Regions from separate parts of the Homo sapiens genome. Here region 1 is linked to region 2. A link means that fine-mapping ties the variant in region 2 to the expression of a gene that starts in the linked region. Tissue or cell type: whole blood. Region 2 holds a variant in brackets; the other region holds the start of a gene. All regions are shown on one strand. Distances are from middle to middle. Region 1 holds the start of NCF2 (neutrophil cytosolic factor 2). Region 2 overlaps NCF2 (neutrophil cytosolic factor 2).

The links. PIP is the estimated chance that this variant, and not a neighbour inherited with it, causes the effect. A credible set is the group of variants that fine-mapping cannot tell apart.
Region 1: NCF2 starts here. The variant in region 2 is the best candidate, but not a certain one, in a credible set for the expression of NCF2 in whole blood (INTERVAL, PIP 0.78).

What each region holds. Positions count from the first base shown.
Region 1 is chr1:183,587,912-183,593,285 of GRCh38, forward strand. It overlaps NCF2 (neutrophil cytosolic factor 2), which reads right to left and starts at 2,548. Exons shown (of 15, transcript NM_000433.4): 1 at 2,245-2,548. The coding sequence starts at 2,418. It also overlaps the pseudogene C18orf32P1. RefSeq lists enhancers at 2,568-2,827, 2,938-3,277.
Region 2 is chr1:183,566,059-183,571,432 of GRCh38, forward strand. NCF2 (neutrophil cytosolic factor 2) reads right to left here. Exons shown (of 15, transcript NM_000433.4): 6 at 4,722-4,781; 7 at 3,084-3,127; 8 at 1,146-1,287; 9 at 862-930. Among named protein-coding and RNA genes, the nearest start is that of NCF2, 22 kb to the right of the region's middle. RefSeq lists an enhancer at 1,685-1,744 and a silencer at 5,073-5,238. The variant G/C (reference allele first, on the strand shown) is at 2,666.

The DNA of each region.
Region 1 (5,374 bases), 22 kb after region 2:
TTCCTTTTTCATTAGTGTAGCTTTCATTTCTATTATCGCTGTTTTAATAATATGATTTAATATGATTAGATAGAAGCTTTGAGCCAGTAGACACTATGTTACTAAATCAGTACTTTAAAATCTTTGGTCTTCTGTCTTTCATTCATATGAATTTAACTGCTGTTTGCTCTAATTTCTTTGAGTTCTCCTAGTTTGAGTAGAGTACAATTTTACTGTGAAACAATGCAGCGAGACTGTGCTATGAAGTGAAGGTAGAGTTTTTGGAGGTGATAATGATGTCAAACTTAAAGATACAATTCCTATCCAACACAACAGAGCACCTTGTCCAGGAGAGTAGTAATTACTATTTATTGCTCTGTGGAAGATAAAAAAGATAGGGAAATAGGAGAAGCTTCTTTGAAAAATGAAACATCATTAGACGGGCTTGGTGGTGCATGCCTGTAATCCCAGCTACTTGGGAGGCTGAGGCAGGAGAATCACTTGAACCCAGGAGGCAGAGGTTGCAGTGAGCCGAGATTGCACCACTGCACTCCAGCCTGGGTGACAGAGTGAGACTCCATCTCAAAAAAAAAAAAAAAGAAAGAAAAAATGATATCTAATGTAATAATGAAATTTTAACCCTTGTTGCATTTCTTGTATTCCTATGAATGTATTGAACATTCAGTTTAAATAAATAATAAAATTTATTGCAAATGAAAATAATTAAAATATTATATAAATTGTTATATTTGTTTACTATACAAACTTATACATGAATAGTATACAATTAAAATGATAATGAATAAGAATGCATATAAATGCTAGTAGGAAGGGCTCAAGCAGGAAAACAAAGAAAGGCAGAAGGAATGAGAAGGCTAGAAGCAGAGGAATGCCAGGAGAAACAGAGACATGTGGGCCTGAAGGCCTGGGAGCTGAGAAGTGAGTGGTGGCCCACACAACCTTGCCAAGGATCCCATATCCAGGCCAAGGCAGGAGGCTACAGTCCCTGCTGGCATAGCTGTGCCCAGACTAGCTGCCAATCTCTTCTCCTGGACAATGTGCACTTTGTGTCCATCAGCCCTCAGAATGTGTGGTGCTGTTCACTCAGCCCCTCAGCAGGCCCCTGAGAGGAGGTGGGGCCATGTCCTTCCTCCAGCCAGAGGTGGGGGGTCCTGCCATGCTCTGCCTTAGAGCCTGAGATTGACTTGTCAAGCTATGTGAGAACATTTCAGTCACTTCTCTGTCTTCCTGTCAGGAGGGTGTGGCTGAGGCTTGTTTACCTACTGTTGGAGTGTGGAAGGGACTGATTCTTTAAGGGACCTGGGGAGTCAACCACTGCCACACCTTGCAAAGACTGGCAGTAATCGGTAAAAATAATAACTAACTCTTATACAGTGGTGTGAAGTTCCACGAGACATTAATAGTTTGGCATCTCACTTAATTTTCATGATATTTAGAAACTCAGGAAGCTGAAAGCCAGATGTCTACATAGGCTACATAGCTTGCTTAAGACTAAAAGTCCAGAGAGAGACAGAGGCTAGGATTCGATCCTAGATCTTCTCCTTCCAAACTCCATACCCTTTCCACCTTACCACAACCAATCAAAAAAATAATTATCGAGAATGCTTAACTCCATACTATGGTATTTGAGTGAGAAAACATAACGAAAAAGATGCGAGACATCCCACACCATGCCCCCAGCAGACATCACTAGTCAATCACAGTACAATTTCCTCTTGCCAGCCTCAGCATCTTTAAAAGAGTCTCCTTTATAATTGATCAGAATTGTCACTTGGGATAAAAGCTATTTTTTGTAAGTGCCTCCCTTAAATCTCTTGAGCAGGCAAAGTCGACACACATGAAAGTCTTGGAAAGCCAAAAGAGGTGCCTTAGAATCAATAATCAGGTGTAAAGCGCTGGGATAGATAGAGATTCTGTGCCCAGAAGGAGTTCTGTGTAGAAGAAAGTACGACTAGGACAGCCTTCACAAAGGTGTTAAAGACACTTGTAGAATGATTTTAATTTAGAAGATGGAGAAAGAGGCAACCCTGGCTGCCCCTCACCTGCTCTCCACCTGGAGAGCTTTTAAAACTGGCTGCCTGGGGCCCCTCCCAGACCAGTTAAATCAGGCTGTCTAGGGGTGGAGCTTGGGCAACTTTTGTTCTTTTCAATCTCCCCAGAGGTTAGGTTTCCGAAATGCAATGGGGTTGAGAATCATAATAACAAATGCACAGAGGAGGCCCGGAAAGAGGCACCTCCACTCACCTTCTCTGCTTCAGTCATGTTCTTCAGGATAGTGTACATGCAGCCAATGTTGAAGCAAATCCGGGAGTGGGGGTCCTGGACGGCACTGAAGGCATCCAGGGCTCCCTTCCAGTCCTTCTTGTCCGCTGCCAGCACCCCTTCATTCCAGAGGCTGATGGCCTCCACCAGGGACATGATTAGGTAGAAACTAGGAGGCCAAGAGAGCTGCCAGGAGACAGAGAGAAGACAGGTTGGAGCGTCTCCCCTAGCAGGGCTGCCTTAGTGGCCCCCAAGGTGTTCACTTTCTGGGCCAGATGAGTAGAATGGGGCCCAGCCTCCCTTAAGATAACTTCTCAGTGTTGCAAATGCATCAGGAAATGTCCCCACCTTTTGGCAACTGACTCATAACCCTACCATGAGAGAGAAAAGGAAAGAAGCAGAGAGAGAGAGGGCGAGTAGGGGTGGAGTGTGGAGGAGAGAGGAAGTACATCAGCTGCTGCCTGAAGGATCAGTTCCCCAAAATGCTTCTGCTCTGTCACCCAGCTCCTCTTCTCTCTCCCACCCCTGTTCTGTGGCAGCTTCTGGCCAAAGTTCTGCTTCTAGAGCCAGGGTAACCTTGGCAGGTAGAGGCACCTCCCTGGTGATAATGACAGGAGGCAGCCAAATGCCTAGGCAGATAGGGGCAGGTCCCTGGTGAAACCCCACCTTCAAGCCAAAAACAGCCTGAAGGCTGAAAGACTAGGCTACTGGTCCCAAATGAAACCCGTGACCTAGAGTGAGAACTTCTGTTCCTGTTTGTCTGCTCTTTCCCAATTAATTATTTCTGACTAATGCCTTTTAACCAATTGAATGTTGCCTTTTCCAGTACTACCTATGTCCTGCCCCTCCCCTATTCTGAGCCCATAAAAGCCCCAGACTCACCCGCACTGGGGGGACTTTCCTGCCTTTGGGTAGGGGAACCACCCCTGCATCCCCTCTCCACTGAAAGCTGTTTTCATCACTCAATAAAACTCCCCACCCAGGCCGAGTGGGCAGGCCATCTCCTGCAGCAGGTAGTGTGGCCCACTGAGGCCTGGGCAGGGTGTCACCAGCCAGAGGTTCCTGGCTTACAAAGTGATGGAGAAAAAATCCTGTGTCACTGGGCCTTGATTTCCACACCCTTGTTAAATGGGAGTGTCAGATGAGAGGATAATTCTTTCCAGTCTTGAATGAATTCCTTGCTCACTTTTTTGTAATCCCATAGGCTGTATTAATATGTTAGTGTTTATCTTGAGCTGAAATTATCATTAACAAATTTTTGAGACAGGATAATCTTTGGAGATCCATCTGATCTGGGCCTGAAATAACTTTTTTTTTTTTTTTTTTGAGACGGAGTTTCACTCTTGTTGCCCAGGCTGGAATGCAGTGACACGATCTCAGCTCATTGCAACCTCTGCCTCCTGGGTTCAAGCAATTCTCCTGCCTCAGCCTCCTGAGTAGCTGGGATTACAGAAGCCTGCCACCACGCCCTGCTAATTTTTGTATTTTTAGTAGAGATGGGGTTTCACCATGTTGGCCAGGCTGATGGTCTCGAACTCCTGACCTCAGGTGATTCGGCCTCCTCGGCCTCCCCTCAAAGTGCTGGGATTACAGGAGTGAGCCACCGTGCCCAGCCGAAATAACTTTTATGAACATTCATGAAGTTCAGAGGGGACCAATTTCCTGCAAATGTCAAAATTGGGAGCCACATGACAGTGAATTATGACTTCTCCCATCTTCCAGTGAAAAATTGAAGAGATGAAAGTCCTGCACTGATGACTAATGGATTTACTAGTCTCTGAAAAAACAGATTTAAGAGTTCTTTCCTTGCTTTTCCAGAAAAGTAAAAATCAGTAAAACCTCCCAGAGGAATAACTGGGGGTAAAGGGTATAGCCAATTTGGCTTGCTAAAATCCAGGCTTCTTTTTAGGTAAAATGCATGTTTATGGGGGTCAAATACTTAGATGCAAACTCTTGTTTTGTAGCAACTGAAAGAATTCACTCATTATCACCAAGCTTCCCCTAAAAGCCTGAAAATAAAACTTAAAAATGTATACTCCACAGTGCTTGTAGGATTGAAGGTGTGAGAATTAAGAAGACATGTGTGTCTTTGTCCAGATTGTTTTCCTGTGTTTACAAGGCCTTCCCAGCTCTCTTCTTTGCCTGGCAAACTCCTACTCATCTTTCAAAGCCCAGTTTAAATGTCACCAACTGTGCTAAATCTAGCCCTGAACTCTGGGTAGTAGGAGAATTTTCCTCTCCTTTGTACCACCTTTACCCAAAAACTTGCATCATACTTACTGCAATTTATCTCTTTATCTGCTCAATTCATGGGCTCCTTGGAAGTTGGGACCATGCCTTTTCATTCTAGGATCTCTAGCACAGATACTCAATACATGATGAAGGGATACATTCTAAAAGAAATTAGAAATCATTGGTAAATGACCTGCAGGTAGCAGTGATGGCAGAAAGAGGTATTGCTATTCCATCTAGTGAATAAATAATCAGGACTTGAATAGCACATTAATTATTCCTGAGAAAACCAAATGGATTTGTAGCTAAATTAGACTTCATTTTTAAAAAATGTTTTTGCCCTCCTATTATCCCACCCTGACACTCAGAACTCTCCTTAATCTGACTGCCAAGACTTTTCTAGCCTTATCCCCAGAACTTTCCTTCACAATCCCATACAAACTCTGCTGCTTACTCTTCTCCCGCTATGCCTTCATTCCTGCATCTGTGCGACTCGTGCTAGTTCCTCTTTCTAGGCTGCCCTCTCCCATGTCTGCACCTTCAAACCCACCTTGCATAGCCTTCGAAGGCCTGCTAAAATAGCACTCTCCTTAACACACTGCCCTGAAATCAGTCCTGCCTGAAAGCGCTCAAACCCATGATCTCGCCTTCTGAACTCCTGCATCTCCTTCTCCGCACCTCCCATGTGGCCCTTAATCACTCTTCACCAATGTATGTGCATGCAAGTCTTAGCACCTCAAATAGTGTGCCTCAGGAGGAAGTCCTGGGCTAACCCATGTTTGTATCCCCCAGGGCACTAGCAAAGCCATTCATGCTCCATTTCATCCACTTTCCCTCCCCTTCTCCTGTCACCACTCAGGCCAAGCCACTATCAACTCCC
Region 2 (5,374 bases):
AATCCACTGGCCGTGGGGCAGGACTGAGCTCTTGTCTCCACTGCAGAGGGCATTGAGAAAGGAAAAATTCCACTTCTCATTTGCAAGGCATTTGAAGCTTTTCAAAGCATTTGGATATGGTGACTGACCAGGGAGGGCTGAGCTCATATACAACTGGTTGCACAGTCTAGAGACAGACAGTCTCCACTGCCATTGAGTCACTTACAGGGATGCTCAGATCTGACAAAGACAGCTCTCTAGGCCTGGCAGAAGGACAGACTTTTGAAGTGTGAGGGAGGGAGTAGCAGCAGTTTAGAAGCAGTGGCTGGCAAGGCCCACTCTGATTCAAAGCTCTAAGGCAGATCTCATTTTATTATTTTTATTTGTATAGAGGTGGCATCTCTCTATTTTGCCCAGGCTGGTCTCGAACTCCTGAGTTCAAGTGATCCTCTCACCTCAGCCTTCCAAAGTGCTAGGATTACAGCCATGAGCAACTGCAGCTGGCCTCATTTTCTTTCTAATGGCATTGTACCAGCCAACACATTGACTACTCTTCCACGTGAAGCAGACACACTTGGGAAGACCTAACCCACTCATATACTGTAGGCTTTGCTTCCCAAGTGACTTCTGACCAGGAAGAGTCACAGAGGTGGGTGGGCCCAATGGGACCTACAGATGCCTCCAACTTAGCACATCTGGGCTTTTTTCCCCTCATTCCCAGGTTCAGCTCTGGGTAGCTGGTGCCATCTCAAGGCGGGCTCAAGACTAGTGAATCTTTCTCCAGGGGTCCTGACAACACCTCTTTTACACTGCTTTTCTCCCCTCCAGGGAGAGATCCCTAAAGGGTGAGAGGAAATGGGTCAGGCCTTGGCATCACATTACCTGGGGCTGCTGCTGAGGGTGGATCCGCAGCTCAACTGGTTCAAGGTAGTTGCAGGGAACAAGCCCCTTCTGCAGTGCAGCACCACAGAATCAGAAAGGAAAAAATAAAGATGTGCTCATCAGTACCCACACCACAGAACAGCCCAGAGTCCTGGGGAAGGGATGACGAACAGACAAAAGAACTTGGCTGGTCTGCAAAGAAGGCAGCAGATACTGCTCCACAGAGACTGCATTTGCTGCCAGGATCCCATGCCCATCGCACCAGCCCCTGATCCTCTGCATACCTGCCCGTTGAACATGACCGTGGCCCAGTTATCATTGCCCTTCTTCAAGACAAAGACAATGTTCCCTGGCATGACCTGGAGCTCTTCTTTTGTCTCAGGCACAAACCCAAATAGCACACGGTGAGCCTCCCCTTCCAGAGCCCTGCAGAGGATAGACACAAGATCCAGCCCCCATCCCCTCACATGATGCCATGGCGCAAATACACTGAACTTGGAGCCAGGGACTTGGCTCCAGCCTGGCTCTAACTCCACATCTAACTGCAACTGCCGAGATGACACTGAGCCTGCCTGGGCTCCCAAGAGGTCTCAGCAAGAAACTGGTGTACACCTGCTCATAACCATATATGCAGAGGGGCAAGAATAAAGCAAAAACCCCACAACACTAGATAGTGAGGACTTACAATCCTTGCCCTCCCTTCTGCTCTGAGGAGGAAGGTCCCTGGCTGTGTCATCTTGGCCAGCACCCAAGGCTGGGCTGGGGTGGGGTGGATCAGGTGACTGTGGTCAGGGGAACAGCACAAAGCAGAAGTCAGGTGAGAGCCAGCTGGGCCAGAAAGATTGGTGGGAGAGGAGGAAGGAGAAACCACCTAGAACCAGTGTTGGGCCAGGATAGAGAGACCGTGAGCAGGGTAGGTGACAGGGAGCGTGAGGGATGCACATAGAGGGCTCTGAGGCTGCCCAGCTGCCGTGGTGCAGTGTCGGTTCCCTTAAGTCTGACTTCATGCTTTTAGGCTTTGAGGCTCTGATTGGCATCACTTTGGAACGTGTGACTGAGAGGCTGGTGTTCAGGTTTCAGGCTTCCCTCCCTTTACTCCCCACTCTGTTACTTTCCCCTCGGCCCATCCTTGTTTCCAGACATCGTGCCTACTCCTGTAGGGAATACAGGCCCTTCCAGCTGACAGGGAGCTTAGGAATGAGCTCATCCAGCCCCCTCATTTTTGTAGTTGCTTTGGTACTTTTGTCACTTTTTTTTTTTTGAGACGGAATCTTGGTCTGTTGCCCAGGCTGGAGTGCAGTGACATGATCTTGGTTCACTGCAACCTCCACCTCCTGAGTGCAAGTGAGCCTCCTGCCTCAGCCTCCCAAGTAGCTGGTATTACAGGCACATGTCAGTCACCACACTCAGCTAATTTTTTCATGTTTAGTAGACATGGGGTTTTGCCACGTTGGCCCGGCTGGTCTCGAACTCCTGATCTCAAGTGATCCGCCCACCTCAGTCTCCCAAAGTGCTGTGATTTCAGGCATGAGCCACACACCTGGCCAATCACTTTTTAAAACCTCCTTTTTGGGTGGGAGGACCAGGCTTGCTTCATCACTTTGAGAGAATTCTTAAGAAAGCTGTAGGTTATGTCACCCTTTGTTTTTCATCTTACAGAAGAAGGACTTCCTTTTCTTCAGTCCTTCCTCTTTACTTCTTCAGAAAGCATGTGCCGATAGGGAGTGGAAAACATCCACACAGGAAAAAGGACGTCATTCTAGATTCCTGACTCCAGAGAGCTCTGGCCTGCCCCCGTCAGAGG[G/C]GACTGCAGCCAGTGCGAAACCGATCTCCAACCTGAGGTCAGCATCCTGGTCCCCAGGGTAGCTATGTTCCACAGAACACCACTGCCCCTCAGCAACAACCCCTTGCCATGTGGGTGGCTGTGCACGTGGACAGAGGGCCAATGGGACACCACGTAGCTGCAGCCAAGCCCTGATGGCCAGCCCCACCACAGTCAAGACTCCCATCCCCATCATATCATTCCTTTCTAGCCTGACATTCTAGAAGACATTCTTCTAGGCATTCCTTTCTAGCCTGACATTCTAGAAGAAGCCTGACATTCCAGAAAATTCAACAAGATTTAGACCCTGACCCCACCTTCATCTTCTTCCCTCCCTTTCTTGCCATCAGCTCAGGCTTGGCGCTTGGATATTCTATTTATGGATTTGAATCTAACTTACCTGAAGATCTCTGGGGTTTTCGGTCTGGGTGGAGGCTCAGCTGCCTATTGAACATTCAGGAGAAGTGAAAACGGAAAAGGCAATGAGGGAAAGCAGGGGAGAGACAACAAACGGCTAATGGTAATTTGAGCATTCTTCCAGACCAGAAAATCAAATAACGCATTTCTGACTGATGAGAACACTGTCTAGGAAGAGGGCACAGTCACCCTGACTAAACACTGGGAAATAACACCTCCCACCAGCTCCCCAGGTACAGGTTTCACTAGCACAGCAATTCATTTTGAGCCAGAGCTAGTTTCTGGAGGTTAGCAGTCACACAGCAACATGGTGTCACAAGAATGCTTTGACCTTGAGCTCTGTCCTTTTCCCAGGACAGTTTCCAAAAGCTCTGTTCTGTAATTAATGTCTACTATGTCACATGACACTTCTGAGTATTTTTAAATTAATTTAAAAAAAATTTTTTTTGAGATGGAGTTTCACTCTGTCGCCCAGGCTGGAGTGCAGTGGCGCGATCTTGGCTCACTGCAACCTCTGCCTCCCTCATTGAGGTGATTCTCCTGCCTCAGCCTCCCATGTTGCTAGAATTACAGGCATGTGCCACCACACCCTGCTAATTTTTGTATTTTTAGTAGGGACAGGGGTTTCACCATGTTGGCCAGGCTGGTCTGGAACTCCTGGCCTCAAGTGATCTGCTCACCTCAGCCTCCCAAAATGGTGGGATTATAGGCGTGAGCCACTGTGCCTGGCCACTTCTGAGTATTTAAAATTGACACAGGATCCACTGACTGGGCAAGAATCTCCTCCCCTGTTCTACACTGAATACCATGGAATCCAGTTACCTGGGCTGCATTCCCCTCATGGCCTCTGGCTGAACTGAAGCTCAAGGGACTTCAGCAAGGCTTTCATCAGCTTTATTGTGAAGAAAGAGATCAAGGAATCTAGATCTGGAACATACCTGCCCCTGCTCAGAAAACCGCCCTCTGCTAGTGCTGACCAACACTCTTGCCCATCACAGGTTCATTGCCACAGAGTTCGTATTTTCCTTAATGTGTTTTCCCCTCTTTCCTTCACAAGGAAGCTCTGTGTGCATTTCTAGATCCACTATCATCCAGTTCATCTGAGCTCACCTCTCCAAGCCCAGCTTGGGCAGAAAAAGGGTTCACTCTCAGTGCGCTGCCTGTGTTCCCGAAGGAAACCCCTGCACATGAGCAGATGGGTAGAGCCAGGAGAGCCCAAACCTCAGGCCCAGGCCCCACAGGGTTCCCCACTTGCCCCTGTACTCAAGAAGAGGCTTTGTTAATAAGCCTTCCATAGCTTGTGTTTCAGCTTCCTGAGAGAATAGTTGAGGCTTCAGAGAGAGGATCAGCAGATCTCTTTAGAGATGTGAAGACCGGCATTTGTGGGGAAGCAGGAGAGTTAGCTTCAGAGGACTTGGGGTGAAGCCTGACACTGCCTTATTTCCTCACCAGCCATGGAAACCAGGACTGAGAGAGGGCAGGCAGATCCCTCAGCTGCACTGAGGGCCACTTGAAGGAGCCCTTACAATCAGGCAACTCAGCACACATAGTCTCTCGAATTGAATGCTTCACAGAAAGCTCTCGAGACCTAGGTCCATGGAGAAGGTCAGGACTGCCTTACCTGTGGTTGCAGAGGGGCAAACCCAGAGAAACTGTCTTGATCCACCACAGATGCCACGACCTAAAATCAAGGACAGGAGGGTGTGAGGCTCTGCCAGCACTGTTTCCATTCTTCTGGGTCTCCCTCTTTGCTCATGCCCTAGACCTGTTCTTACGTGAGCCTGGTTTCAGACGTGGACAGTAACTAAGGATTAGATTCCTGAGCCTCTGGATTAGGATTTCAGCAACTGAAGAAACGAGCATTCACCCCACCCCTGCTAACACAGGCTTGCTTTCTTCTCTCTTAAAAAAGAAATGTTTTTAATTGAGGTGCAATTTGTATAACATCAAATTATCTTTTTTTTTTTTTTTTTTTTTGAGACGGAGTCACGCTCTGTTACCCAGACTGGAGTGCAGTGGCGTGATCTCAGCTCACTGCAACCTCTGCCTTCCAGGTTCAAGTGATTCTCCTGCCTCAGCCTCCCGAGTAGCTGATATTACAGGCACCCGCCACTGTGCCCGGCTAATTTTTGTATTTTCAGTAGAGACAGGTTTTCACCATGTTGGCCAGGCTGGTCTCAAACTTCTGACCTCAGGTGATCTACCCATCCAGCCTCCCAAAGTGCTGGGATTATAGGCATGAGCCACCACGCCCAGCCCAAATTAATCATTTTA